4 linked regions of the Homo sapiens genome follow. The protein of the gene in region 2 purifies or fractionates together with the protein of the main gene of each other region. This does not show direct contact. Each region holds a gene or a part of one and is shown on either strand. Other genes may lie near its edges.

Evidence for each region.
Region 1: the proteins of SPPL2B (region 2) and GHITM purify together in Homo sapiens (co-immunoprecipitation; 3 studies listed by BioGRID and IntAct, with this or other methods). This does not show direct contact.
Region 3: the proteins of SPPL2B (region 2) and SLC30A6 purify together in Homo sapiens (co-immunoprecipitation; 3 studies listed by BioGRID and IntAct, with this or other methods). This does not show direct contact.
Region 4: the proteins of SPPL2B (region 2) and LMAN2 purify together in Homo sapiens (co-immunoprecipitation; 3 studies listed by BioGRID and IntAct, with this or other methods). This does not show direct contact.

The regions. Positions count from the first base shown.
Region 1 is NC_000010.11:84,134,649-84,142,521, reverse strand, and holds the start of GHITM (growth hormone-inducible transmembrane protein), read right to left. Parts: upstream 3,014-7,873; 5' UTR 2,929-3,013; intron 1,061-2,928; 5' UTR 1,022-1,060; coding exon 893-1,021; intron 1-892. UniProt on the Homo sapiens protein: Plays an important role in maintenance of mitochondrial morphology and in mediating either calcium or potassium/proton antiport. Mediates proton-dependent calcium efflux from mitochondrion.
Region 2 is NC_000019.10:2,338,684-2,345,703, reverse strand, and holds part of SPPL2B (signal peptide peptidase-like 2B isoform 2 precursor), read right to left. Parts: exon of another isoform or gene 6,953-7,020; coding exon 6,863-6,952; intron 6,640-6,862; coding exon of another isoform or gene 6,636-6,639; coding exon 6,496-6,635; exon of another isoform or gene 6,414-6,495; intron 5,881-6,413; coding exon 5,738-5,880; intron 5,629-5,737; coding exon 5,532-5,628; intron 4,807-5,531; coding exon 4,690-4,806; intron 2,494-4,689; coding exon 2,412-2,493; intron 1,740-2,411; coding exon 1,665-1,739; intron 1,343-1,664; coding exon 1,280-1,342; intron 1,152-1,279; coding exon 1,052-1,151; intron 452-1,051; coding exon 374-451; intron 1-373. UniProt on the Homo sapiens protein: Intramembrane-cleaving aspartic protease (I-CLiP) that cleaves type II membrane signal peptides in the hydrophobic plane of the membrane. Functions in ITM2B and TNF processing.
Region 3 is NC_000002.12:32,168,860-32,175,879, reverse strand, and holds part of SLC30A6 (zinc transporter 6), read right to left. Parts: intron 4,594-7,020; coding exon 4,507-4,593; intron 1,818-4,506; coding exon 1,733-1,817; intron 562-1,732; coding exon 519-561; intron 1-518. UniProt on the Homo sapiens protein: Has probably no intrinsic transporter activity but together with SLC30A5 forms a functional zinc ion:proton antiporter heterodimer, mediating zinc entry into the lumen of organelles along the secretory pathway.
Region 4 is NC_000005.10:177,348,666-177,356,118, forward strand, and holds the start of LMAN2 (vesicular integral-membrane protein VIP36 precursor), read right to left. Parts: upstream 3,004-7,453; 5' UTR 2,983-3,003; coding exon 2,787-2,982; intron 2,627-2,786; coding exon 2,508-2,626; intron 1-2,507. UniProt on the Homo sapiens protein: Plays a role as an intracellular lectin in the early secretory pathway. Interacts with N-acetyl-D-galactosamine and high-mannose type glycans and may also bind to O-linked glycans.

The sequences.
Region 1 (7,873 bases), on a different chromosome or scaffold from region 2:
TATGGAAATTTATTAGCCAACTTAAAAAACTAAATGTAAAAATAAATAAATAAATGTAGACCTTCCCTGTGCTCCACCTTTGGAAGTTAGTAATTCATTATATTATTCTTAGTTTCAATTTCAGAAAAATTGTTTCTTTCACAAACTATAGATTTACATACCTAGAATTGTTATATTTTAAATCCTAACCAAATACCAGGGTGAGAATCTGTTAGCATTTTTAAGATATGCATTCTACAAGCATTATTAGCTATATTTTGTCATCTGGGATATGGACTCAAGAACAGCATCTTTCCTTAACATGAAGCCAAGAAGAGGGAAGACTACTACTTCCATTGTGGCTCTTTTTCAACAGTGGAACAGTTAATTTAAAAGAGAAAATGTCTCCTAGCTTCTTTATATTGTCCTCATTACCTCACACTTCAAACCTTATAATCTGAATGCCAGAAGATAAATCTATTATAAAAATGGGTTTCTTTCTAACCTGACAGATATTATCAACCTCTAAATAAGAGATAATATATTTAGTAATTTATTAATAAGCTATTGGCCAACTGGTAATATCCCTGGGTTCTTAAACTTCTGACTATGTGCTCCAGGATCTCCGTTACACTATGTAACTCTCAATCCCTCACAATGTACTCTAAATTTTCTAAATGAGAAACTCCAGAAGCTGTAAGCGAAGACAGAGTTACAGAAACTCATTTTCTATTTCATATGGGATAAGGAGGGACCAGAATGATACAAACTAATGGGGAGAAAGAGCTGATTGGGGATATTATCAGGGCTAACTGACGTATAACACACTAAAGGCAGAGCAGCCATACTCTGCCAAAAAGAAAGGGCACAAATGGAAAAAGAAGCAATATAAAAACATTCAGATTATCTTTACCCTGCTAGGTGTTAACAGCCATTGATTCTTCGTGATGGAATTCTTCACAACAGGGGAGGCCTTGGTGAAAGCTGGGTGGAAAACCCTAGAAGGTAGTGTCCGGAGACACACCAGCCTTGCAGCCAACATGGTGGTGGTGCACCAGGTCTACCGAGCAGATCTGAAATGCTAGTTTAAAAAAAAGGCAAAACCAACCAAAAAAACATAAGTAAAACAACCTACTAACCAATTAAGAGAAGGACATATGAGAGTCAGAGTCAAGGAACAAACTATTTTTTAGTAGAACAGGAAATAAAGCGACCTTTTTAATTTTCAGCGATGAATTCTTTGCCCAACCATCCACTGTAATGCAAGAAACCCATCCCAGAGAACACAGCTGAAGATGGAGGAACAAACTAGGTTTAAGTCCCAGTTTGACCAATCAAAATAGATGACTGCAAAAATTATGTGTAACACAGAACGGCTGTTAATAACTGGACGTGATTACAGAGTCTGTGATGGTTTTTACAAATGTAGTTTTGGCTTAAGATTTATACCAGCATCCAGTGGGAAAATTTAAAAGAATCTACATAACTTTTGGGCAAAGGAATAGTGTCATCCAAAGAAGACATGAATAGCTCTTCAAGGTTATACTGCATTACAAAGCTAAAAGGTATTAAAAGAAGCCAACTATATGAATTTCAGCTAATCATACCAAATATTACTTTCCTTCAACATGAGATATAAAAATATTCTAAGTTAACCTATTCTATATGTCCTACTATAATGCGTAAAGGACATTTAGTCTTTCAAAGTAAACAAGTAAACTCAGTTACCAACCAGGTTTCCCTTACATTAGACTCCCTCGATGGTGTCTTCAAAAGAAAAGCATGCTAAAAACTGGATTATCTTAGCTCCAGGGCACATTATACTAGATGGGTGGTCAACCAGAAGTCAGCAGACAGTGTTTCTGTAATGCTAAGGTGAGGTGACTACAATAGGTCAGAATGAAATGACGAGTGTAAACCAACTGGGGCTACCAGCCCATCTCTGCCAATGATTTGTAGTGAATTCTAGGCAAGTGATATACTTCTGGGCCCATTTCCCCATCTGTAACATAAGGATTCCGTGTTCAGACTACAGCGTTGACCCTTAGACTACCTGCTTGAAAGTGCCCCGGATGCATCTTAAAATGTAGGCTCCTGGGTCTTTCTTTGCTCCTAATGATTCTACCCCTAGGAATAAGACCAAGAACGTGTGTTTTAACGAACACTCCAAAAGCTAAGAACTATTGCTTTAAGATACCCGAGCGTCCTCCGAGCTCTGCAACTGAACTATTAAGGGTCTTAAAATTCGGCACCCGGCCTTTGGGAAAACACCCAGCGCTTTTGGAACTTTCGTGCCATTACATCATCTCAACCTATGGCTGTCCTGTATCTTCCTCAGTACTCAGTCCACTGGTTGGGGCCGAAGAGGTCCAGCTCAGAGTGACCTCCATGTGGCGTAACAGCCCAGAGTGGGAATCCCGCTTCTGACAGGTTAGAAGTGACCTTGTGAGGAGTGTGGATCTCTAAGACTCAGATGTCGTTGCTATAAAATGGGGAAAATACTACCGACCCTAATCCAAGGGCTTATGCCTCCGTGAGCATTGATGAGTTTGGGTGCCTGGTCCCCGAGAAAGTTCACCCAGCCCGCTAGATTCAGATGAGAACCCGGCAGCAAACTTCCCTGTCAACCCACAACACCTCTGCCCCTGCCCCAGGTGCCGCTACCAGCGCAGCGGCTGTACGGCCTCGCCGCAAGGATGACTCAGCACCTTGTTGCCCGAGGACAGAAGCACAGCTACACTGAGCCCTTGCCCGCCTGACCAGGGCCTTGTGCCGCCGCCCTCTCCACCAGGTCACCCACAGGACTGCGACCCCAACGCGCAGGCCGGCCCTGACGCAGCCAGCAGCACCGCTGCTTCCAGCCCTTCCCCCCGCACCCAGCGGTCCCGTGAGGGCGGCTGTCAGGACCACCGGGGATCCCGGGCGCCCGCCGGCCAGCCGGAGCAGTACCTCGGTCCCCGGTCACCTTCGCCTCGCAGTTTCCCTTCCGGGCCCCTAGCGTCGGCCTCAAAGAGCACAGTTCCTCCGGCGCACTGCATGACGCAACATCGAAAGGACGTAAATAGTACGAGCAGCCAATCACGGGCAGGCCTCTGTCGGAAAAGCGGCCACACTGGGGGAGGCGGGGTTCCGGGTTGAGGAGGCGGGGTTCCAAATTGGTGGGGCGGGGCCAGTTGAGGATTGTTGCAGGGAACGTCATAGTCAGCGTCCATTTTGCGTGTGGGCATGGGAGTCGTCTCGGCCATCTTTGTTTTGGGCAGTGGAGCTCTGTTTTGCTTTTGTTTTAGTCGTTTCACTCGCCGCAGCTATAAGAATTATGTAAAAATTGAAAGAAAGTAATGTTAGAGTTAAAAATTATTCCGTTTATTCCGTTCCTTTTTGAAGGCCTTTTTGTCCCTTAATTTATCGTGAGATAAATATCTTTTCAAATGTGTCTGCTTCTGAGCCGAGTCATCCGGTTTCTGGGGTCTCATGCCAAATGTTAGATGGTGACATCCAGAAAAGATTTTTTCTAGATGGTTTTTTCATTGCTTTGTGACTTTCCCGCCCACATTTTCAAGTTTCACCCTAAACCTGTGTAATAGGCCTGATAACAGCCGCCTCTGCCTTGCACCCAGGATTGCTCTGAGGACTAAGATGTTTCCATTGCGCGTAATTTGATAGGTGAAGAGCTAGTTGTGGAATACGCGAGAGAGTTACTTTCTTTTTCACTCTCCCTCTATTTCAACAGATATTTACTGAATGCTCAACTTCGTACCAAGCTCTGTTCTAGAAATATATACAAATGAATCAGCCGGGCGTGGTGGCTCAAGCCTGTAATCCCAGTACTTTGGGAGGCCGCGGCGGGTGGATCACTTGAGGTTAGGAGTTCGAGACCAGCCTGGCCAACGTGGGGAAACCCTGTCTCTACTAAAAATACAAAAATTTGCCAGGCGTGATTGGTGCCTGTAATCTAAGCTACTTGGGAAGCTAAGGCAGGAGAATCACTTGAACCCAGGAGGCGGAGGTTCCAGTGAGCCCAGATCCCGCAACTGCACTCCAGCCTGGGCGATAGAGGGAGACTCAGTCTCAAAAAAAAAAGAAACCAAAAAAACAAAAACAAAAAAACAGCAAATGAATTAAACCCGTGTGTGCTACCACTATTTTAACAAAATAAAGTCCTTGCTCTGTGGCTTTACTTTCTGGTAGAGACAGAACATAGAAAAAATATAATGTGATAACTTAATACCATGAAGAAAGAGCAGATTAAAACCCTGAAAGGGTGATAAGGTGATTAACAACATGCAAAATTCATGAACCTTTATCTCCTAAGCAGTAGTTAATTGTGATTTATGATTCCTAATCATGTAAACCTTGACAAATATAAAGACTTGCCTTCTATGTGGATAATAAAAGAGTCTGGCAGCAACACAATTCTTATCTCTTTACGCTGAAAATGGCAGGAAAACACTAGAGAAATCTCACGAAACTGAACAGATCAAGCATGATCAGTTTAATTTTTATTTTGATCTATGCCCAATTTTATTAGCTAGCAAATAGGTTTTCTGTTTGGCTCCTTCAGTGATAGTCTTTTTTTCTAGAGCTTCTGTTATCAGCAAAGAGAAAGGATTTACAACACAGTACCAGAATAAAGATCTTGAAGTCAATGACTCAAGCTTTCTTCAAGATTCCTATTAAAGCTTATTCTCTCCATATTGGAAGAAAAATGTCTGATTTCATATTTTCCTTTCTCAAGTAAAGGGCTTGTATTGTTGTTTCCACAGGGGTCAAATATTTTGAAGCAGGGGAGGAATCTGGTCATATCATTGGGAAATATATGCTCTTGTGGCAGTGTAGGAAGGGAGAGGTTCCATGGACCAGGAGACCAATTAGGAATTTATTGTAGTTGTTCAACCAAAAGGCAATAAAGGCTGGAATTAAGCCAGTAGAAAGACACAGAGGGGTTTATGACAGAGATATATTGCTGAAGTGGAGTTTGCAGGATTGAATGGTCGGTCAAATATAGCTGATAAGAATGAGGAAGGCTCCCTGAGTAATCCTTCTGAACTGGGTGGATAATTTTATCATTAATTTAGCAATAGGATACAGGGAGAGATACAAGTGAGGGGAAGTAGATACATAAAACTTAGTTTGAAGTGTTTAATTGTTAAGTTCTCTGCTTCTAAGTTCTTAGAGTGTAGGATAGAGAAAAGGACAAGCCGGGAATGGTGGCACATGCATGTAGTCCCAGTTACTGGGGAGGTAGCCCAGGAGCTTAAGGCCGGCCTGGGCAACATAGGGTGATGCTGTCTTTAAAAATAAATAAGTAGGCTGTGTGTGGTGGCTCACGCCTGTAATCCCAGCACTTTGGGAGGCCGAGGCGGGTAGATCACAAGGTCAGGAGATTGAGACCATCCTGGCTAACATGGTGAAACCCCGTCTCTACTAAAAATACCAAAAAAAAAAAAAAAAAAAAAAAAAATTAGCAGAGCATGGCGGTGGGCACCTGTAGTCCCAGCTGCTCGGGAGGCTGAGGCAGGAGAATGGCATGAACCCAGGAGGTGGAGCTTGCAGTGAGCCGAGATCGTGCCACTGCATTCCAGCCTGGGCAACAGAGCGAGACTCCACTTCAAAAAAATAAAAAATAAAAAATAAAAGAATAAATAAGTAAATAAAAAGGAAAAGACATGATTCGTAAATTCCAATACTATATATATGTCACGGTTTTTATTACAGTCTGCTGATGAATTCCTTATTCTCCACTTGCTGGCTAAGTGAGATATGCTGCATTATAGTGGAGAAAACTCAGAGCCAGGACAAAAGATAAAATATTTTATTTACTTTCAGTTAAAATAAATGCTCTCACCTTGCCCTACTATGCTTTCCCATCAGAAGATGTGGTATGAATGAAACAGAGTTGGAAAGGGAGTTTGCTGGGGCTTTAACCTCTGCCCTCCCTGATGGAGTCTCCCAACAAAGGGAAGGTGCTTCTTCCTGAAAGGTTGCAGATGTTTCTGAATGTAGGGACCAATTGGCACCTGCTTCTCATGTGGTTGCTAAGTGGCAGACAACAGAGCAGGTAGGAAAGTTACAAGATCTTCCCCATCTTGGCCTTGTTTTCCCTTGGAATCCCTAAGGTCTAGATAAACACAAGAATGTGATTGTGAGCACGCACCTGCTTGTTTGCACCCTTCGAGATGCTGCTCAGTAGTGAGGCGACACTAGAAGTATGTGTGGGTGAGATGCCCAGATGGGCACCAACAGACCATTTAGTGTATGACAAGGCAGAGCCATTTGACTCTGCTTGGGTGAGAGATCAAACTGTGCCAACTTCAAAAGTTATATCCTGCCAGCCACAGAAAGACAATGAAGCCATGGGGACTACTCCCTTTAGATTTTGCTGAACGGCAGCTGCATGACAATGCAATGACTAAGAGGTAGAGTGGAAGGACAGAGAAGCTACACTTTTTCCCCTCCTGTTTAATGTAAATGTTTCTAATCCAGTTGTGGCCCAGGAGAGGAGAAAGGACTTTGAACTCCAATGTGACTGATGGTAATAAATCCTGAAACTGACAGACAAATTGTCAGACTGTTCTGAGCTTGCAAAATGGAATAAATAGGCTGTCTGCTCTAAACTGACTGGGGCCTTGAAAATGACATCGATGGCAGTTTAAAGAAAAATGTAGCTCAATTTTGCATTCACCTAACTGACAATATATACCCCTCACATATGTGCAACTAAATGCTGTAAGTGGGCCAAAGGACAAGGTCATTAGTGGGGTAGTATCTGTGGAGGGACAGATATTGGCAGAAAATTGAGACTAGTGTCATGCTTTCTGGTCAGTCTTCCAAGAGGAAACCAACACTCAGAAATTGTAGTAGCTTTTCTTAAGAAAAAGGTATTAGGTTGTTCTTGCACTGCTATAAAGAAATACCCGAGGCTGGGTATTTTATAAGAAAAGAGGTTTAATTGGCCCATGATTCTGCAGGCTATACAGGAAGCATAGTGGCATCTGATTCTGGGGAGGCTTCAGGAAGCTTCCAATCATGGCAGAAGGCAAAGAGGGGCAGGTACATCACATGGCAAAAGGAAGAGCAAGAGAGAGAGAGTTGGCGGGGAAGGGCCAAACACTTTTAAATGACCAGATCTCCTGAGAACTCACTATCTCAAGGACAGCACCAAGGGGATAGTGCTAATCCATTCAAGAGAAATCCACTCCCATGATCCAGTCACTTCTGTCCAGGCCCCTCCTCCAATAACGGGAATTATAGTTCAACATGAGATTTGGGTGGGGACAAATATACAAACTATATCAAAAACATAGCAAGGTAAATGGTAGATCTGGGTCTAGAACATGCGATGGAGGCAAAAGCTGGTGCTTGAGGGATTAAAAAAAATCTCTCTTTTAATATATAATGCATGGATATGCAGACAGCACATGTGCTAGTAAAGCTATGACATTAAGATGTCATGGGGGAGGGAATCAGGCAAAAGCATCTGAAATGAATTCCTAGGGAAGCAATAATAAAAAAAGGCTGAGGAGCACTGGCCTAGAATACAGGATTTCTGTGATTCACTCTGATATCAGGCTCATCAGAAAAATTTTTGGTGTTACCCTCTATGACTCTATCAGTGAGTTGTTATTTGAGGTGATTTTGTGATCTTGAAGGAAATGAAAATATTTCACCCCCAAATATATTTTCTTGACATTGTTCAAGATGACTATTCAGAAAGGCTGGAAATAAAATAATAGCTAAAAAGCTGTCTTTTGTGGGAGAGATTAGCATTTGTAGAAAAAGTCTGCATTGATAAAGTCCTGCATTCTCCGAAGGTCTTCTCTTGTCTGATCTAGGAAAGACTGAGAGTCCGGCACCATAAAGGTCTGAAAGAAACATTTACCATCTTTCTCTCTGA
Region 2 (7,020 bases):
GGAAGAATGAGAAAGAGGGGGTTGCAGGCACAGGCCCGGGGAGAATGAGAAAGAGGGGGATGCAGGCACGGGCCCAGGAAGAATGAGGAAGATGGGGACAGAGGCACAGGCCCAGGAAGAATGAGAAAGAGGGGGTTGCAGGCACAGGCCCGGGGAGAATGAGAAAGAGGGGGATGCAGGCACAGGCCCAGCCACCCGAGCCCAGCTCCCGGAGTGGCCAGGGGGTTAGGGTTAGGGTGTTATGGTTACGGTGTTAGAGTTGGAATTAGGGTTAGGGTTGGGGTTGGGGTTAGGGGTCAGGGTCAGGACAGAGGCTAAGTCGGGGTGGGGCTGGAGCCAGAGAGGCCAGCACGGGCCCAACCGAGGCACTTACCGATGGTGCAGGCCACGAAGTATACCCTGGAGGACTGTACCTGGATGTCAAACCTGTGGCAGTAGGCCACCAGCAGCCCTGGGGGAGGCACAGGGCGGAGGCTTACTCGGGCCCGCAGAGCCTCAGAGCAGGGGCTTCCTGGGAGCGGGCGGGCACCTGAGCACCTGTGGGCGCCGTGGGCCTCTCGCTGCCTGGTGGCTGCTGTCATTTCACAGACAGGCCACACGCTCGCTCGGGACAGGGCTGCCATGACTCTCAGTGGGTAAACTGAGACCACAGTGAGAACAAAGTCCAGGCAGACACACCTGGCAGGACCCTGGGGACACTGAGGCTGCGAGGGTACAGTCTCTGCCTTCTGCAGCAACATGAGCTCACTGGGACCCGGGATCCAGGCCCCAGCAAGGACCCCTGCACAACCCCGAGCAGGATGGGGTGAGGCTGTCTGCAATCGGGGGGCCTTCCCCGCTCCCTAGGAACAAAGGGGGTCCCTACCCCACCCAGGCAATGCCCTCGCTGCCCAGGCACCCAGGCCTCAACGGCCCCAACCTGCCCGACTCTGACCCTCAGGGCTTTATCTCCAGCCGACGGTGTGCGGGCCACTCACTCCCAAAGGCAAACCTCAGCCGCCCGGGGCCCTGCCCCACAGCGTGGACCCGTGTGCTCCACCCGCCTCAGTACCTGGCACCAAAATGTCTCCGAAACCCAGGAGGGAGAAGGGCCGGTCACACAGGGCCAGAGGTGAGGAGTTCAGCCTGGGCACCTTCAGGACCATGGGCAGCTGCAAAGACGGGAAGAGGACAATGTCCTCCAGGACCCTCACCCGGCCGCGGGATGCCTCGAGCCCTATCCGCTCCGCGCAACACCTTGACCCATGGCAACCTGAGACCCTGCAGTCAGAAGACACACCTTCTCACGGGTGGCTGAGTCCGAGGGCCCAGTGGCCACCTCCACCATGATGCTGCTCCCACTCTGCACAGAATGGGGTTGAGTGAGGGAGCGTGGTGATGGGGTGGGGGGGCAGGGGAGTGGGGTGATGGGGCGAGGGGGCAGGGTGATGCGATGGGGGGGTGCAAGGGGCAGGGTGATGGGGGGTGATGGGGCAGGGGAGCAGGGTGATGGGGTGGAGGTGAGCGGGGTGATGGGGTGGGGGGCAGGGGAGCACGGTGTGGGGTGGAGGGGGACGAGGGGGCGGGACGAGGGGGCGGGGTGATGGGGGGGGTGATGGGGCGGGGGTTGCGAGGGGGCGGGGGAGCGGGGTGATGGGGTGGAGCAGGGACAGGCAGTCGCCTACCTTGGTCAGGAAGGGCGTGATGAACACGAAGAAGATGTCGTAGAGGAACAGCACCAGCAGCAGCAGCGTGCAGGCCTGCGAAGCCCACGGCTGAGGGCGGCCCCCACCCCGGCCCGTGCCTCCCCCACTCCCATCTCATGAGGCCCAGCGCCTCCTCCTGGGAGGCAGCCTTTAAAGGAACCTGAGCAGAGCGTGCCCAGTGCCAGGGACGCACCACGCAGGAGGAGCTTTGGAAGCAACATCAGGTAGGGATTTACGGGCAAAAGTCAGGCTTTTAGAGTCTCCACGTAACAGGAAGGCGGGGACGGGAGGGCGGAGGCCTGTGCCACGCAGGGCCGGCTCTGGGGATACAGAGGGCCATCCTGGGCATTCAAATGCCGCTTGCTTGGGGTGCTGTGGGGCCCTCACGGGAGTGCAGCCGCCTGGGGCTTGACAACATCCCCGCACTCCCGGTACCACCTGAGGCCAGTTCCTCCAGCCCTATTCAACCACTCTCACCACCACCTCATCTAGACATGAGTTGCCCCTGCCGGGAACCGCCCCGCAGCCACCCACCCAGGCCGCCTCAGCGGGGGCTTTGGGACCCAATCTTCAAGCCCCACCCTTCACAACAGGCCTAGGCGGCCATCCCCAGGGCAGTGAGCAGGAGCACAGACCTGCAAGGACCACAGCCCCACACGGGCCAGGCTAGGATGAAGGGCCCCCACTACCCATGCTGCCCCGCAGCCGTGCCCTCCCTGCACTCACCTTGAAGGTGGGCAGACGGATGGTCTTCAGCATGTAGAGGCAGAAGGCGATGCCCAGGGCATCCTGGAGGACCCAGGCCCACCTGCAAGACAAAGCAGCATCCTCGCCGGGGCAGAGGCTGGCTGACCACCCAGGACGCCGCCTCCCACGAGCCACACAGGGCCCTTGCTCTCAGCCAGCACGCAGCCCCACTGCCCTTCCACCTGCCCAGGGGATGACTCTGAGGACCCCAGACCTGTGGGAGGACCCCTGCTGTTACAACTCCAGCAGGGCTGGCGGCACAGGCCCCACCCCAGGGCCCACCCTGCGGAAGCAGGTAGAGGAGCCCACCACTCGGCAGCCAGGACAGTGGACACAGGCCTGGCCGGCTGCGTCTCCTCGGTCGCTGTCCCCAGATGGTGGGGCCAGGACGGTGGACACGGGCCTGGCCGGCTGCGTCCCCTCAGTCGCTGTCCCCGGATGGTGGGGCCAGGATGGTGGACACGGGCCTGGCCGGCTGCGTCCCCTCAGTCACTGTCCCCGGATGGTGGGCGTCACGCTGTAGGCAGGGGTCACAGGCTGTAGGCAGGGGCCAGGCAGAGGGTGCGTGCGCAGGAGGGCTTGGGCACTGACCCCTCCAAACTGTTTTTATTTTGTTTTTGAGATGGAGTCTCACTCTGTCACCCAGGCTGGAGTTTGGTGGCACGATCTTGACTCGCTGCAACCTCCACCTCCCAGGTTCAAGCAATTCTCCTGCCTCAGCCTCCCAAGTAGCTGGGATTACAGGCACACACCACAATGCCAGGCAAATTTTTTTGTATTTTTAGTAGAGATGGGGTTTTGTCATGTTGGCCAGGCTGGTCTCAAACTCCTGACCTCAAGTGATCTGCCCGCCTCACCTCCCAAAGTGCTGGGATTACAGGCATGAGCCCCCGTGCCCAAACTGTTTATTAAATTAAAACTTGTGCCACACCAGGTTTCCTCAAAGAACCTCTGGGTCCACAGTGGGTGGGGCTGCCATGCGGTTGGTGCCCTGGGGCAAAGCACAGAACTGCCTCCTGCACAAGGCCACGGCCCCTGCAGCCAGCCGCAACTTCGGCTCTCTCCTGGCCCCACGAAGCCCCAGAGTCCCCTCCCCGCTGGCCCCTGCCCCCAATGCAGGCTCTGCCTGTCACTTGCTGGACGAGTTCCCCAGCGTTCCTCAGCGTCTCAAACATCAAAGGCTTCATTTGAAAATGGGATAAAAACATCTCCAGGGCGGGGCGGCTGCTAACAGCAGAGGCCTCCATGGGAGACGCTGGTACAGCCAATTCCAGGCGCCACGTACTTCAAGCACCCAGAGAACTGCGGCCAGTTATTTTTTCTGATTTTATATTATTTCTTAAATAGGGCGTCTCGCTTGTTGCCCAGGCTGGTCTTGAACTCCTGGGCAAAGTGATCGTCCTGCCTTGGCCTACCAAATGCTGGGATCCCAGGCGTGAGCCCCTGCGCCCAGCTGACTGAGGCCTGCTCTAACTTCATGTGACGGAGCGAGTTTCCTGGCTTGGAAATAACTGAAAAGATTCATTTTCTCTTTGTGTACAAAGGATTCAAAATATTTTCACATCTTCCTTCTGCCAGTTAAACGTGCCGTGGCTCCAATACACACCAAAGCCAAGCGTACTTGGCTGCCTCAGGAAGGCTGGGAGGAAGTGCCAGATGGTATCAGCGACAGCGGTGGGGACCGGGCGGGGACGGGCCAGCTCTGTCCTCCCAACACGGCACCAGGCACTCGGCCTCATGGGGGAGGCCCGGCCAGCGGGAGGCAGCCACAAGTCCAGGCCACGTGGGAGGTGAGCGTGGGGGGAGCAGTGCCTGCCCCACCTCCACCACTGCTCAGAAGCCGCAGCAGTCATGACCAAGAGGACCGGGTGCCCTGGTGCCCACACCCTGGGCCTCGAACCTGCGGCGTGCACGTGGGTGCCAGGAAAGGGACAGCGGGGGACAGACTGTGGCCCTGGGCAGCGATGCCCCACAAAGGAGTCCCATCCAGGCTGGAGGACGTGGCTCCTGGCCACAGGGGCTCCGGCCTCTCCTCCCGGATTCCAGTCAGGGTTCCCATGACACCCGGACAAACCCCAGGTGAAACGCCCTCGCAGCCCTGTCAGAGCAGCCCGGGGCCAGGGCTCTTCATCACGCGGTGCTGAAGCAGCTCCAGGCTGGGGCGGCCTCCAGGGAGGGCAGGGAGTCAGGGCCCCAGGAGCCCTGGTGCACCCGAGGACTCCGCTGCCCGCCGGGGCCCGGGGGAAGCAGCACTTACTGGTCCTCGTTGCGGAAGACGCCCCACACCACGCTGACGGCCACGCAGAAGAGCGCCAGGAGCAGCATACGGGCCTGCGGGCGCTTGTGGAAGTAGGGCAGGCTGTTGTTGGGGATCCTGGGGGGCACGGGGCAGTCAGAGCCAAGCCCACCAGCTCCCGGCCTCATCCCACTGCCCACCACCCTTGGGACCGGCCCAGGCACCCCCTGCAGAGTGGCAGCCCCCACTCTGTTGTCCTCATTAAACTCCACATCCCACACGATGACAACAGTAGGCACCCCAAGGGCAGGGCAGAGCCCGACCCGGGCAGGCGCTGGGGGCCACGGGCTGTACCCACAGAGCCCCTCGCCTGCGCTGCGCCCCTTCGCCCGAGGCCCTGCCTGCTCCAGACCTCCCACCTCCTCACCCAGGGACGGCAACACAAAAAGGTCTCCCCCTGGGCTAGCCCCGCTTCCTAGACCCAGGTCTGACTTTGTTGGAGACCCCCCAGCAGCTCCCTTTACCCCTAAGAGCCAGGCCAAGCTCTGGGCTGTGGGGAACCTTCTGGGTTCCCCGGAGAACCCTGGGGAACCCAGGGTTCGGCCTGCGACCTGGGGCAGGGTTCCTGGGGACAAGGGCACCCTCCCCCCGCCACCCCTGGCGCCTGGCTGCTGGTGGGCTCCATTGATAGCTCGCCCAGACTCCGCCCTGCTCCTGGGCCTAGGAGCCCCAGGCCAGCACTGAGGGAGCGCCTGCTGTAGACTCTGAGCAATATTGCACCATGGGGGGCTATGGGGCGGCAAAGGGGCCGTGGCCATCACCGCACAGAGTCAGGCACGTCGGGGCCAGCAGGGCAGACTCACCTGCACTTGCCGAAGGGCAGCCGCCGCACACAGGGCGCCAGGCAGCTGTAGAGGCCGGTGGCGGAGGCCAGGCAGAAGATCCCGATGACCACGTACACTGCAGGGGCAGGGCCGTGAGGCCGGGGGCCAGGCCCGCACGCCACCCTCCCTCCGCACGGGGCGGGCTGCATCTCCACGCCGCGGCCCACCCGCCCGGGGCCGCGCACCGAGGAGATCGTAGAAATAGTAGAGCAGCACCAGCATGGAGCAGCACATCACCACAAACACGCAGGTCATCACCGGCGTCACGTCCACCGCCTCGTCCTCCTGCTTCTCGGGCCCATCGTCGCGCTTGTGCTTCATGTACCTTCTTGGGAGACACCATGGGGTCGTGGGGCCCTGGGGCCGGCTGGCCGACACGGGGCTCGGGAGCCCACAGCCACCCGGGGGAACGGGGCAGAAAACCCGGGAGCAGGAGGGGACCCGGGGGGGACTGAAGTGCAAGGAACCGCCCCGAACGTCCCCAGGGCAGAGGAGACCACACAGCAGAGGGTGGCAGGGCCCGCGTCCCTGGGTTGAGCTGGGGTGGCCACTAGGCCGGGCCAGAGGCTGGCGTGTGGGCAGCAACCGCAGCTTGGATCTGCATAAAGAGCCCTGGACATGGGGCCTCCCCAGACCCAGGCGGCTCAGCAGGAAGAGGGTAGCTGGCCCCAGCCACCTGCCCAGCCCTGCACCTGCCACGCCCGTACCTGCCACATCCACACCTGCCCAGCCCTACACACCCACCAGGTGCCCGGAGCCCACCCTGGCAGGAAAAGAGACTGATTCTGTCCCAGGACCTCCTGAGGAAGAAACGAAGGGCTCCACGGGGCGAGCCGTGCCTGCCGAGGCCAAAGCACTCACTGCTGTTCTGGAAGACTGGCCGTCCCGGCCCGTGTCAGAGCCGCCCGACCCCGTCACAGCACACGCACGATGCGAAACTCACTTCTTCACGTCCCGACTCCCGGCCCAGTAGCCGCCGATGGCGACGGTGCCCACAGCCATGATGAAGATGATGACCATGTTGTAGTCCAGCACCGGCTCCTTAGGCGCATACAGCGCCGCCCTCACCGTGCGGCCGAAACGCTGCCTCAAGGAACACACCGGAGGCAGGCGTCAGAGCCACCCGCCAGCCATGGGTCGACGTGCAGCTGTGGGCTGTGGGGCTGGGGCTGGAGACCCTGGCCTGCAGGGGCCACGCCTCACCCACCACCCTGATCCCACCAACTGAGGCACAAACCCCCCCGGCAGCCAGCCCGAAGCCCCCTGCCCCATCTCCTCGGGAGCGTGGGTCTGAGCCGGCGCAGACCTACCGTGAAGATGTCCAGCATGTCTTTGTAGCTGAGCAGGGCCACGGGAATGCCAATCTCATCATACTGCGTCTTATTACCCCCCGGGGGGACCTGGGGGCCCAGAGGAGGGAGCGGCAGGCATCACCCGCAGCAGTGGGTGGGCCCCCAGCTCTGTGCCC
Region 3 (7,020 bases), on a different chromosome or scaffold from region 2:
TGCCTCACCCTCCCAAGTAGCTGGGACTACAGGCATACACCACCATGCCTGGCTATTTGTATTTTTAGTAGAGACGGGGTTTCACCATGTTGGCCAGGCTGGTCGTAAACTCCTGACCTCAAGTGATCCACCCGCCTCGGCCTCCCAAAGTGCTGGAATTGCAGGCATGAGCCGCCCCACCTGCTCTCTAATTACTGTTATGTCTCTAATTATTGTTGTTTGTGTGTTTGTTCTATGTTGATAATTTTACTTATTTAGTAGATTACTTTCCTTTAAGCAAAGAAAACTTCTTCATAATCTACTTTTTCTCTCCATAGATTTGCCTGTTTTGGACATTTCATATAAATGAAATCATAAAATATGTGGTCCTTTATGACTGTCTTCAAAGCATAATGTTTTTATTGTTTTCTTGTAAGATATCAGTAGTTGCTGTTTTTATTGCTGAATTGTATGGCTATACCACATTTCTACCAAGTTCCTTATTAGCTCCAAAACATTAAGATTTCCTAAAAACTTACCTAAAAAGATCAAAAATGGTCAGGTAAGTATAGGCAGTTAAAGCTGCAAAACAACAAAAAAATGATTAAAAGTATTACTGACCCCTCTAAAAAAATACAGCAAGTTACCAAAATTATTTCTACCAGGGGTATCCATTATCAAAAAAACTTTTGAGTCACGGGCCAACCTCATATATTGGCAGTTATCTAGTAAATCTGATAAATATATGTAGCCAAAGTTCGTTGGTAGAAAAGCTTACTTCCCAACCTGATTTCTCCATTAGGAAAAATGAAGCAATGAATGTTCAAAAGCCCTGTTACCATTTTTCTGCCTGCTTCTGTAATCTCAGCGCTATTTCAAATGTATTGTTTGAATAACTGAACAAAAGAACAATGCAATAAAAAACATAAAAAGATATAAGAAAAAAATTACAGAATTCCCTTTTTAAGGAAAAGCCAACAAACCTCAAAATCTAACTTACAAACTGCATAAATTAAAGTTTTAATCTATTATATTAAAAACAAATCTCCAGCCAGGCACGGTGGCTCACGCCTGTAATCCCAGCACTTTGGGAGGCTGAGGCGGGTGGATCATAAGGTCAGGAGATCGAGACCATCCTGGCCAACATGGTGAAACCCCATCTCTACCAAAACTACACAAATTAGCCAGGCGTGGTGGTACGTGCCTGTAATCCCAGCTACTTGGGAGGCTGAGGCAGGAGAATCGCTTGAACCAGGGAGGTGGAGGATGCAGTGGGCCAAGATCACACCACTGCACTACAGCCTGGCAACAGAGTGAGACTCCGTCTCAAAAAAAAAAAAAAAAAAAAAAAATCTCCAGATAGATTTAATGATTTTTCAAAAAATAACAGCTTATTTAAAATGAAAATGGCCAGGCATTGTGGCTTACGCCTGTAATCCCAGCACTCTGGGAGGCCAAGGTGGGTAGATCGTTTGAGCTCAGGATTTTGAGACCAGCCTGGGCAACATGGCGAAACCCCATTTCTGTTTTAAAATATATTTTAAAAGGAAAAAAACTTAAAAAAAAATTACAATCCTAACAAATGAACAAAAGTTTACAGTTTACAGGGAAGTTTTAAATATAGTCCCTTATTTAAATCATTTGAGTTATATACATTTCAGAATAATATATTCTATGTAAGATATACCTTTATTTCCAATGAGAAAAATAAAAGTAAAAATAACAACTCCATAAAAATACAAAGGTGACATACCTATACTATTAGTAGAACTGCACCACATAAGCAGGAAGCCAGTACATATCAAGTTTATTACACCAAAGAGCAGTATCTTCCAGGACTGTGAAAATAAAAATCACTCTTATGTGTACAGAAGTGATAAATTTCACGGGGTCTGTTCAAGTTGCTACAATTTATACTCTGATATTCAAAGGAATAAACATAACTTCCTTCAAAAAGTCTGTGTCACACTTTCTACATCTACCAAAATTGTCATCGGCTAAGTTATTACAGTATACAAGTTTAAAAGAATAGTTCCAGAAGGAGAGTTGTTCAAGAGAAAATAAATTCTGACATAGAAATTCTCAAATAGTTGAGAAAAATACACATACATATGCATATCGTTTTGTCTCTATAAGTACATATTATAGAGACAACGATGAAGCAAATGGGGCCAAATGTAAGCAACTGGTGAATCTGAATAAAGGGCATGATGATGTTCCTAAAAGTTAGTAATCTTGTCCAGGTGCAATGGCTCACTCCTGCAATCCCAGCACTTTGGGAGGCCAAGGTGGGTGGAGGTCAGGAGTTCAAGATCAGCCTAGCCAACATGGTGAAACCCCGTCTCTACTAAAACAAAAAATCAACCAGGTGTGGTGGCAGGCACCTCTATTTCCAGCTACTTGGGAGGCTGAGGCAGGAGAATCGCTTGAACCAGGGAAGCAGAGGTTGCAGTAAGATGAGATTGTGCCACTGCACTCCAGCCTGGGCGACAGAGCGAGACTCTGTCTCAAAAAAAAAAAAAAAAGTACTGACTTTGGCTGTTCAACATCAACCAAGTAAGGTGAGAAATAAGGAAAAATCTTCATTTTGGCAACACAGAGATTTTTGGTTACCTTGTAAAAGCTGTTTATGTGAATTAGTGGGCACAAGTACCTAACTGGTATGTGTTTAATAAAGATGAGGAGAAGAGAAGGTGAACACAATGTACTGATAATTCTTTCAAGTAGGTTTGCTACAAAAGGAAGCTGAGAAATGAAGCAGCCCTGAGAGTGGAACTTATAACATGTAATTACGATGCAAGAAAGAGGAGAATGATGCATGATGCAAGAAAAACAATGATGTAAGAAACAGAACAATTATAGGGACATCATCTTTCAGTAGGCAACAAGTGAAAGGATTGCCTTTATAGAGAAGAACTGAAAGCTTGTCCAGAGAAATAGGAGGGAAGGCGGAGTGATGGCTGATGTGCTAATGATAGGATGTAGAAGTTTTCTTCTGATTACTTCTTTTCCCTTGGTGAAACAGGAAGCAAGATCATCAGGTTAGGGTGAGGATGAAGAAGGTATTAGAAGCTTGAGGATAGAAACGAAAGAACATCGTATGAAACAGCCATCTAGGAAATTGGAAAATTGAATGAACAAAGGAAATATAAAATGAAAGAGCACTAATAGGCAGCACTTAATAGGCAGCACTAATGGTCTGTCTGATCATGAATTCAAAGTGAGACCAGTCGCATGGTTTTGTTTCTCTCAGGTTACATTCAGTTGCTTAGATGCAAGTAGAGTAGAAAGAAAGTGAACTTAATGAAGGTTAGGGATTTTCCAGGAATTAAGACAGAGGGAAGGGGAGCACAAAAGAGTTGAGAACATATAAAAGAAAATGATACTAGCTGGGAGTGGTGGTGTACCCCTGTAATCCCAGCTACTCAAGAGGCTGAGGAAGGAGGATCCCTTGAGCCCAGGAGTTCAAGACCAGCCTGGATAATTTAGCAAGATTCCATCTCAAAAAAAAAAGAACAAAAAGGAGGGAAATGATAATGATGGAGCATAGAATCTAAGTTGGATAAGGAAGCAAATGAGGATAACGGAGTTGAAAAATAGTGAAAATATGGCAGAGTTTCAATTGGAGTGCCCATTGGTACTGCTTATTATTGTTTCATTGAAGCTGGCTTTACTTAAAAGTCATCAAATATTTACTGAATGTTTATATTGTACTTCTATAAAAAGGTGAGCAAAATAGAGACAGTCACTTCCCTCAGAGAGTTTATCATTTAGACAACAATGAGAAGCATGAAACACAGTAACTAGAAGGTTTACATTGGTGGCCTAAAAGGATGGCAATTACATCTTTTTATTTACAGTCTCAAAACATATTTTTCTTGCCCTACATTAAAAATGAGAAAACATGGGCCAGGCACGGTGGTTCACGCCTGTAATCCCAGCACTTTGGGAGGCCGAGGTGGGCGGATCACCTGAGGTCGGGAGTTCGAGATCAGCCTGACCAACATGGTGAAACCCCATCTCTACTAAAAATACAAAAAATTAGCCGGGCGTGGTGGCCCATGCCTGTAATCCCAGCTACTTGGGAGGCTGAGGCAGGAGAATCGCTTGAACCCGGGAGGCAGAGGTTGCGGTGAGCCAAGATCATGCCATTGCACTCCAGCTTAGGCAACAAGAGTGTAACTTCATCTCAAAAAAAAAAAAATAAATAAAAGAGAAAACATGGCTTTAGACTGGATCCATTTAATTTTTTGAAAACTTAATAACAAAAAGCAACCACAAAACCATTTTTCTTTAAAACACTTCAGAATTAGAATCAAAACTTTAACAGAAGCTTCCTACCAAAGTAAAACAACTTAACACCAAACAACTGCAATTTTACACTAAAAAAATACTTTTCCAACATAGAAAAATGAAAACAGTGTGGCAGGATCAGGAGTGATTTCTATTGGCCTTAAAAATTATCTTTCTTCAATGTTATAATGTTGTTTGTGCAATAATTAAAATTGGGGTTAAGGAATAACTTACCCTTCGGTCAGCTGCTACAAGTCTAAATTCCCGTAACAACTTGCCAAAAAAGGATCTTTGTGGTTTTCGAAAGAGATGAATTGTCCCCTTTCAAACAAACATATACAAATCAGCATTTAGATATTTAATCATCTTCAGAGTTCCTATGATATGATATAGTGGTTCCTATGATATAAATAACCAATATTTATTAAGTACTCAATATACATCAAGCACTTATTCTAGACACTTTATGTGTATTTATGGATTTAATATTCACAATAAACCTATGTGGTGGAGACAACTTTTAGTAAGTCATCCAAAGTCACAGAGCTAGTAAATGGCTGAGCAGAAATTCAAACCCAGGCTTTTTAGCTCCAGACCACACTCTTTATTTTTAAATGGATAAGGCAACTTGAACTGAAAAAGAAATAGTTTGCCAAATAGCTCTACTGGAAATTTCTACTGAAAATTCACCTAATTAAAGCTATATATGTGGTTGTGCTTGGGGCTCATGCCTGTAATGCCAGCACTTTGGGAGGCCGAGGCAGAGGGATAACTTGAGGCCAGGAGTTTGAGACCAGCCTGGCCAACATGGCAAAACCCTGTCTCTACTAAAAATATAGAAATGAACTGGGTGTGGTGGTGCACACCTGTAATACCAGCTACTCAGGAGGCTGAGGCGTGAGAATCTCTTGAGCCTGGGAGGTGGAGTTTGCAGTGAGTCAAGATTGTGCCACTGCACTCTGGCCTCGGTGACAGAGTGAGACTCTGTCTCAAAAAGAAAGTAAGTTCAGGCAACTATTATAGTAAAACCCCTGAGATTCTCTCTTAGGCATTCAGTCAAAGTATCTGACATCCTGGCTAGTCTCCCTGGCCCCTGCTAGTGTATAGTTAGTTTGGGGATAGTAAAGATAGGGCTCACCAATGAGAGAGGAGACCAAGTGGCAACTAGAGGGGATTAACCACCCAAGTTTAGGAAATCACATGGGAAAGCCTTAGCAGAACAGAGAGTTCAAACACATATGAGAAATTAACTTATGAGAAAAGCAGTATCCAATATCACTGGGAGAAAATATAAGCCAGTCAATAAATGGTATTTTGATCAAGGTAATGTTTCACCCTTACCGTTACTCCTTACTCTGTTGTTATTTTTAAAAATAAAATACAGATTTATAGAGTACTTGACTGAAGAAAGTCTAGATGTATTATTTTATAATCTGGGAGTTGGGGGAAGCCTTTCTTAATAGGGCATAAAACCCAAGAAGCTCTAAAGGAAAAAAATTGATTGATTTTACTATATAATTTCATGGGCGAATGTAATACCCTTAAGGGGGAAAAAAACTTTAAGAAGGTCAAACTGAAAAAAAACTATAATTCACAACAGACAATAGGCCAATTTTCTCTATACACAATGAGCTTCCACAAACTATTTTTAAAAAGATGAATAACCCAGTTTTAAAAGTTACACATTTATAAAGCTGGCCAAATCAGTACCTGCTCATTATTCACATTTGCTTTTGCAACTTTGTATTGTTAATGTGAAATCATGATTTCTCTTGATACTTTAAAAATAAAAATGGTATGCCTCTCCCTATACACAGTCACATCCATCTCTTGAACCTCAGTTCCAGCTGCTTTTGAGGAGGACAGTCTGATTTTAAATATAGGCTACACGGCAAACAGGATATTCACTCTGTCGCAGCCCCATTCTGCGGTGAAGGAGTAGCTGGGACTACAGGTACCCACCACCACGCCCGGCTAATTTTTTTTTACCTTTAGTAGAGACGGGGTTTCACCGTGTTAGCCAGGATGGTCTTGATCTCCTGACCTCGTGATCCGCCCGCCTTGGCCTCCCAAAGTGCTGGGATTACAGGCGTGAGCCACCGCACCCAGCCAATAAATATATCTTTTTCTTGGCTGGCCATGGTGGCTCATGCCTGTAATTCCACCACTTTGGGTGACTGAGTCAGGAGGATCAGTTGAGCCCAGGAGTTCAAGACCAGCCTAGGAAATATACTGAGACCCTGTCTCTACAAAAAAATTGAAAAGAAAAAAATTAGCCAGGCATAGTGGTACATGCCTGTAGTCCCAGCTACTCAGGACACCAAGGTGGAAGGATCGCATGAGCCCGGGAAGTCAAGCAGTGAGCCAGGTTCACACTTTACTCAAGCCTGGGCAACAGAGCGAGACCCCATCTCGAAATAAATAAATAAATACATAAATAAATGTACATATGTATAAATATTATATATATGTGTATGTACATATGTATATATATTCTTTTCTTAAAGAATTATGTGTGAGTTATTTTGGTTCCAAAGATTTAAAAAATTCTCCTTAATACTGTTATTTTGGACATCTTCTGTTTAACCCTAGCCAACTTTAAGTTTCAGGTTAAGAGAATCAACAAGGTTTCTAAGAGGCAGAAAGCCACTTCTGATGCCATCCTGACAATGAAAATAAAACAAAAATCCTAATGTCATATCACTCTTCCCAAAATTATATTGGCTCGCCATTGCTATCAGAATAAAC
Region 4 (7,453 bases), on a different chromosome or scaffold from region 2:
TGATAGAGCATGACTCTGTCTCAAAAAAAAAAAAAAAAAAAAAAAAAACCTCTACTAAAAACACAAAAACTAGCTGGGCGTGGTGGTGCACACCTGTAATTCCAGCTACTCAGGGGGCTGAGGCAGGAGAATCACTTGAACCAGGAAGGCGGAAGTTGCAGTGAGCCGAGACTGCGCCACTGCCCTCCAGCCTGGGTGACAGAACAAGACTCCGTCTCAAAAAAAAAAAAAAAAAAAGTGGATATCAAATTGCAATATTTAGATTCCACTGAATGTTTAAAATACTGAACAGTTTTAGTTTAAAATGTCAATATTTAAAATATGCTGTCATCCTTTGCAAATACTTAAACCTAATGACAAACAATTTTTGATGCCAACTTTTCAAAAGGTTGCTACAACAGCAAAGAAAGCTTAAAGACCACTGCCGCAGCCTCCGCACAAGACCCCCAAAAGGACAGGGCCTGAGCAGCCTCCCCAGGTCCTATGCTGCAGCCACCAGGCACTTAAGAGTTCTAGTCAACTCTGAGCCACTCCTTCATCTAGACCACCCCCCCTGCACCACAGCAGGAGCTATTTTATGGCTGCTCAGAAGACAGCAGGTGTTCAGGGAATGTTCGCCTGAGTGCATGCCTCTCCCGGATGGAGTGAATGAAGGAGATAAAAAAGGGAAAAGTTTAGGAAGCATCTCTCCAGCTCATTAAAGGAAGAGGCAGTTCTTGGGAAACACTGAACAGAAAATTCTGATTTCCAAGCCATTTCTTTCCAGAGTTTACAGGAAGCACTCCAAATGTTTCAGGAATATCAGCAGAGCCAAATAGAAAGGTGGAGGAAGGAAGGCAAAACAATTGTACTCCAGACTGAAAATTCGATGAAGGCAAGTGCAGAAGCCTCTCAGTCCTGTGACATCCTCGAGCCACTGATGATGCCAACCATCAGCTATCTACAACCAAAATGTAAGCCACTGTCTTAGATGCGTCTATTACTTGTGGCTACTCCTGATTTCTACAGTTCCAGCACTGTTTGCACCTTGCTTTCAAAAAATAATAATAATGCTATACTGAACTCATTTCCATGAAAAATATAAGGCTGAATTATCATTTCTTTAAAATATCTGAAAGCCCTAAGACAGAATGTGACAGAATGTGACTCGGGGGAGATAGGGTGGTTAATGAAGAAATGTCTGCGTGGGTGGCACTTGAATTGAGACTTAACAGATGAGAAGGAACCAAGCAGGCATGAGGAGCCAGGAGGCAGTGTCCCAGACAGAGGGAACAACAGGTGCAAAGGTCCTGAGGCAAGAAGGCAGCCAGGGGGGGCTGGAACAAAATTAACACAGAGAATGACTGGAGATGCACAAGGGGCCAGATTGTGCAGACATAATGCATGCTTACCCCTTCACAGGGGACTCCACGCTCTGAGGATCAGACTGAAAGCTGAAGAAAGTATCCGCAGATGCCACTAACAGCAGTGTGGAGGCTCGGGGCAGGAAGGAGAGGAGGAGCAGAGGGGACGGGCAGACCAGGCAACACAAGGACAGTGTGGGTTCCCAGAACTAAACAAGAAAGTCAACCAGCAGGGATCAGAGAGCAGGGTGATGGAGAAAACTAGAACACTGGCCAACAGCTTAAGCCATGGGAAGGGCTGAGATTAGGCAAGCTGGGGCAGGAGCAGGTCCCGCTCCAAGCTGTAACCCAGCCCCAAATTATTCTTCTTTCCCCTTTTTCCTCACCTTGACTGCCTCAGTGTGGATTCTGTGTAGCAGCTGTCATTGGCCACTGCTCACATACTACATACTACATACTCTGAGGCAAAGGTCACAGACACTAGAACTGCCCACAGGTCCAGTCCCTCCACACTACTGATGACAAGACCCTCAACCAAGCATTGCAAAAAGGGTTCTAAGGGGTTCCTCCACTGTCCAGGTGAAAAGAGTCAAGTACATCGAGTGAACTGCTGGGCTTAGAGATCAGACAAATCAGAGTTTAAATACTGTTTATGACATTTGCTAGCTGGGTTATCTTTGTATAGTCATGAAAGCCATCTATTTCAAACAGCTTGTTTGAAAATTAAATGCAATAAGGCATGGCAAGGTCAGTGCCTAATACACAGCAAAACACCCAATAAAGATCCAGTTCGCTCGGTTCTTCCCATTACTGAGGGGGTTCAAGGCAGACAGCCTGACAGTTCCACTACTTTCTGGCTATGTAACTTTGGGTAAGGCCCTTTCAAACCTGAGTCTTAGCTTCTCAGTGGGTAAAATGGAGATAACATTACTCATCTCGCATGGCTTTTAAAGTGAGGAGGATGTAAAGTGTCAAGCGCAGCTCCTGACACATAGTAAGTACCCAATACCCATCGCCTCTTATTATTGGTGGGTGTGACCGAGATGAGGAAAAGGCCAGGGACGGAGGTGCAAACCTATAAACGAAGCTGGGGTCTCAGCTGCTCGGGAGGCAGGGACTAGCAGCCAACCGCACAGTACGCCTATCCTCTTGAGAACCACTCACCTGGTGGTTCCAGATAGAGCCCTCTTTGCTGCGCTCGTCAGGGGTCAGACGTACGTACTGGCTCGTGAGCATAGTGCTGCCCTGGAAGTCCCAGAGGGGCATAGAGCTGGAACCGACCCCTGTGGGAAGAGACAGGTGCTAAGAGGCCACGCCAGGACTGGCCTCACCAGAGGCAGGAAACCCACAGAGATGCTCTGCTCAGGAGAAAGGGCACGCCTTCCCCTAGCCCTGTTCAGCCTCGCCCTCACTCTTCACTCATTCCCGCCCCAAGGGCTTCACCTTGGTAGGGCTTAATGAGCGAATGCTCCCGCTTGAGATGTTCACTGTTGCCGTCAGTTATATCCGCAGTCACAGACCCCAACAACAAAAGAAGAAAGAGAGGTGTAGTGGGGCCAGGGCCGGGGCCGAGAAGCCCAGGCCTTCCCAGGCACCGCCGGCCCCAGCCCCAACGCCAAATCCAGCCTTCCGCCGCCATTCTCCTCTCCTCTCGGCCACTTCCGCCCTAGAACTTCCGCCTTCCGGGGGTCCCATCTATTGGCCTCCGGCCGGAAGCTCTTCAACTTTACTGTCGCCAGGGAGTCAAAAAGCAAAGCCTCCGCAGCAGACGGGGCGGCAGCTGCATTGGCCGGGCAGCCTCTCATCCTGGTTGAGTGCAGTTTCATCTCCTTAGAGGCTCCAAGGCACACGCCGGCCAGCCCCAGCAATGGGTTCTTTCGAGCGACAAGAGCTGTAACCAGTCACGGAACAGCACGTTAGGCTTGCGAGCCAATGAGGAGCAGAGGGATGGTTGGAGCCGGCGGGAGCGCGAGGGCCGTCCGCGACTCGGGGCATGCTGGAATTTGTAGTTTTTGTCGGTCGCTCTAATGGGGCGGATTCGCGAAGACTAGGACGTCTTGGGCTTCTGGCCGCAAGTCCCGTCTCTGGAATAACCTTTTCTAGTCCTGGAGAAAGGAGCTCTGAATTGAAGGCGGAGTCCTGCATTCCAACCCTTGTCCTCCCCGGGTGGCCCTGGGCAAGCCTTTAAGCCGTGCCTGCCGTCAGGCGCCCCAGCTTCGCGCCTTTGGAGACTCAGAATTCCCAATTATTTGAGGGCCTCCACTACCCTCAACTCCTCAGGCCTAGTCGGGTTGAAGCAAGAGGAACAGACACAGATCCTGGCCTGGGACCCCAGTGATGACTGGAACTCATCCCTATGCAAAAGAGCGCAGTGCCTGGTACAGCAAGTAACGTCCATGGAAGGCCCAGGAAAGCTGTGAATCAGAGGTCGAAAACTGGTGGCCTGCAGCTGAATAGAGCTCTGTTTTACCTGCCAATATTCTAATAAATGGCTTAACTACCAGTATTTTAAAGTCAGAATATAGAGGCTGGGCGTGGTGGCTCACGCCTGTAATCCCAGCACTTTGGGAGGCTGAGGCCGGCGGATCACGAGATCGGGAGATCGAGACCATCCTGGCTAGCACGGTGAAACCCCGTCTCTACTAAAAAATACAAAAAATTAGCCGGGCGTGGTGGCAGGTGTCTGTAGTCCCAGCTACTCGGGAGGCTGAGCCAGGAGAATGGCTTGAACCCAGGAGGCAGAGCTTGCAGTGAGCCGAAATCGCGTCACTGCACTCCAGCCTGGGCGACAGAGCGAGACTCTGTCACACACACACACACACACACACACACACACACACACACACACAAAGTCGGAATATGTACATTCACATCAGAAATCCAGACTTCCGGCTGAGCTCAGTGGCTGAGGCCTGTAATCCTAGCACTTTGGGAGGCAGAGGCGAGCAGATTACCTGAGCTCAGGAGTTTCAGACCAGCCTGGGCAACACGGTGAAACCCCGTCTCTACTAAAATACAAAAGAAATTAACGGCGTGGTGGCGGACACCTGTAGTCCCAGCTACTCGGGAGGCTGAGGCAGGAGAATTGCTTGAACCCAGGAGGCAGAGGTTGCAGTGAGCAGAGATCACGCCATTGCATTCCAGCCGGGGCGACAGAGCAAGACTCTGTCTCTACAAAAAAAAAAAAAAAGAAGAAGAAGAAGAAGAAAAGAAATCCAGACTTCCGTTTTTTTACCCAAAAAAAAAAAAAAAGAAGCAGCAGCAAAAGATCTAGGCACACATTCCCACAACAGAACAATAGGCTGGAGCTGAATGGGACTGCCCCTCCACCAATGCCTTCCTCTTCTAAGCTGGTCCCCACCTGGTCACTCGTTTACAGCACTTGCCTGGCTCCTCCAGACATTTGAATCAATGACTCCTGTTGTAGATCACAGGGAGGGATGTTGGTTGCTTGCTCCTTTTAGAAACTGCCCTCTTGAATGAATGGACTTATTCAGGATTGAGTGCTGAATCTTTTCTTGGTCATATATTTTTCGTTCGCTTTTTTATTATTAAAGTCACACATTCTGGTCAGGCACGGTGGCTCACACCTGTAATCCCAGTAGTTTGGGAGGCCGAGGTGGGTGGATCACTTGAGGCTAGGAGTTCGAGACCAGCCTGGCCAACATAGCGAAACCCTGTCTCTACAAAAAATTAGCTGGGTGTGGTGGTGCACACTTGTAATCCCAGCTACTCAGGAGGCTGAGGCACGAGCATCACTTGCACCTGGGAGGTGGAGGTTGCAGTGAGCCAAGATCTTGCCACTGCACTCCAGCCTGAGTGACAGAGTGAGACTCTGTCTCAAAAAAGTCACACATTCTTGTGGTGTGTATGGAAACAGAGAGAGAACAGACATACAAGACACAACAAGCCAGGCATGGTGGCTCACACCTGTAATCCCAGCACTTTGGGAGGCCAAGGCAGGTGGATCACTTGAGGTCAGGAGTTCGAGACTACCCTGGCCAACATTGTGAAACCCTGTTTCTACTAAAAATACAAAAAATTAGCCGGCCATGGTGGCGGGTACCTATAATCCCAGCTACTCAGGAGGCTGAGGCAGGAGAATCACTCGAACCCAGGAAGCGGAGGTTGCAGTGAGCCAAAATTGTGCCATTGCACTCCAGCCTGGGCAACAAGAGTGAAACTCCATCTCAAAAAAAGAAAAGAAAAGAAAAGAAAAGACACAACAAAAGTCTTCTGCCACTCCCCTCGCAAGGAGTGTCCCCTTCCAGAGATTTATCTGCACCCATACAAACAAAAACATGCACATTCCATGGGACCTTCATGGGGCTGGGATTTTTGTCAGCTATGGTCACTACTGAATCCCTGGCATCTAGAATAGTGCTTGTCACATAGGAGGTGATTAATAAGTAACTGGTGAAAGAATGAATATTTGTTCTAGAACCTGGAATTGGGTCATGAAGAATGAGTAGGAGTTTTCCGGGAAAGGTAAAGGCATTCTCAGCAGAGAGAAGAGGAGCTGCAATCTAGGGAGGGATGTGTGAGAGCAGATGAAATACAAGTAGTTTGGAATGGCTGAGAAGTTGGAGTTGGGGGCTGCGGGGGAGCTGAAGCCAAAACTCAAAGGGCCTTCAATTCCCAAGTAAGGAACATGGCCTTTTCCCAGAACTCAATGGGATATTTCTAAGCATGGGAGTGACCAATGTGGATTCCTCTAGCTATGGTGAGGAGAAGAGATTGGAGCGGGGATAATAGGGAGACTGGATTCATCATGATCGGGGGAGAGAGGGTGAGGCCTAAGCCAAGGAGGTCTTCACAGAGAAGAAGGATCTGAAGTCCCAGCCAGAGACTAAATCAGGAACTGATGCCCTGTGGGCAGCCAGGAAGGGAGAAGTCGAGGATGGTGCTTTGTGGGTGGAGGTACTCCACCACTCTCATGGCATGGAGAAGACTAGATAAGGGCTAAGAGATGGGAACAGCCAGGGCTAGCTGTGGTGAAGATGTGGTCAGAGCTAGAACTGGCATCCATGGTGGAGAGAAGGGAAGAGGTGTCTCTGCAGGAGAGTATGAACTTCAAAGGGAGTCCCAGGCAGAGACTGTGACTGTCCTTTGGCAGGAAGAAGATGAGCTGTGGGCATCTGTGGTGGCCAAAGCCCAGTTCCAGGCACCCCAAGCACACTCACAGCTTAGCAGATCTCTAAGAGGATGTATAGCCTTGGGCAACTCACTTCTCTCTGAGCCTCAGTTTCCTGATCTGTGAAATGGTAATAATAAGCACCATTCACAAAGTGGTTGTGAGGACTAGGACTGTAAAGCCACCTAGGAAATGGCCCAGATCCATGGCACAGCAGACAGGAAGTCTTCACCCATATCACACACCCTACAACCCCCACAGGCACATTGAAACAGTCACACACCTTATTAAGACCACCATTGGCAATGGTCCAGGCCCAAAAGCAACCTCCACCGTAACCCCTTTCACACATCAAGTCTGACTGAATCTCTCTGTCTGTGTGGCCTGAAGCAAGGTGTCTGGAGAGAGGTGAGGCAGTGCTGGGAGAAGAAGTGTGTTAACTAGGGCAGTGCTAGCTGCTATAACAAATAGGCCCTAATGTATATAATGACCTGAAAATTTTTTTGATGTTTCTTTTTTTTTTAACTATTTTTACAAGGTTTGTGCATCTGTCAGGAGGCTCAAAAAATTTTACTTCCCACTTACATAATGGTCTGAAGCTGGTTTCCAGGTTGATGGGTGGCTTGCCTTCAGGCACTGATACACAGACCCTGCTTTTTCCTTCTTGTGGTTCCACAATCCCCTGGGCCTCCTCATCTTCTCTATCCATCCAGCTGAAGGAGAAAGAGGGAGGGTGCAGGGCACACACTTACTTCTTCAAAGCCTTGGCTCAAAAATGACACATGTCATCCCACACATTTTCAATTGGCAAGAAGTGGTCACATGTCCACATCTGACTGCAAGGGAACCTGGGAAAGTAAAGTTAGCCACGTGCCCAGGAAAAAAGGACATGAATTTGTGGTGAAGAGCTATTCAGTTTCTGCCACTGAAGAGTTCAGGTCACAGCCCTAGAAGGGGCAGTGGGGCAGAGGGTAGA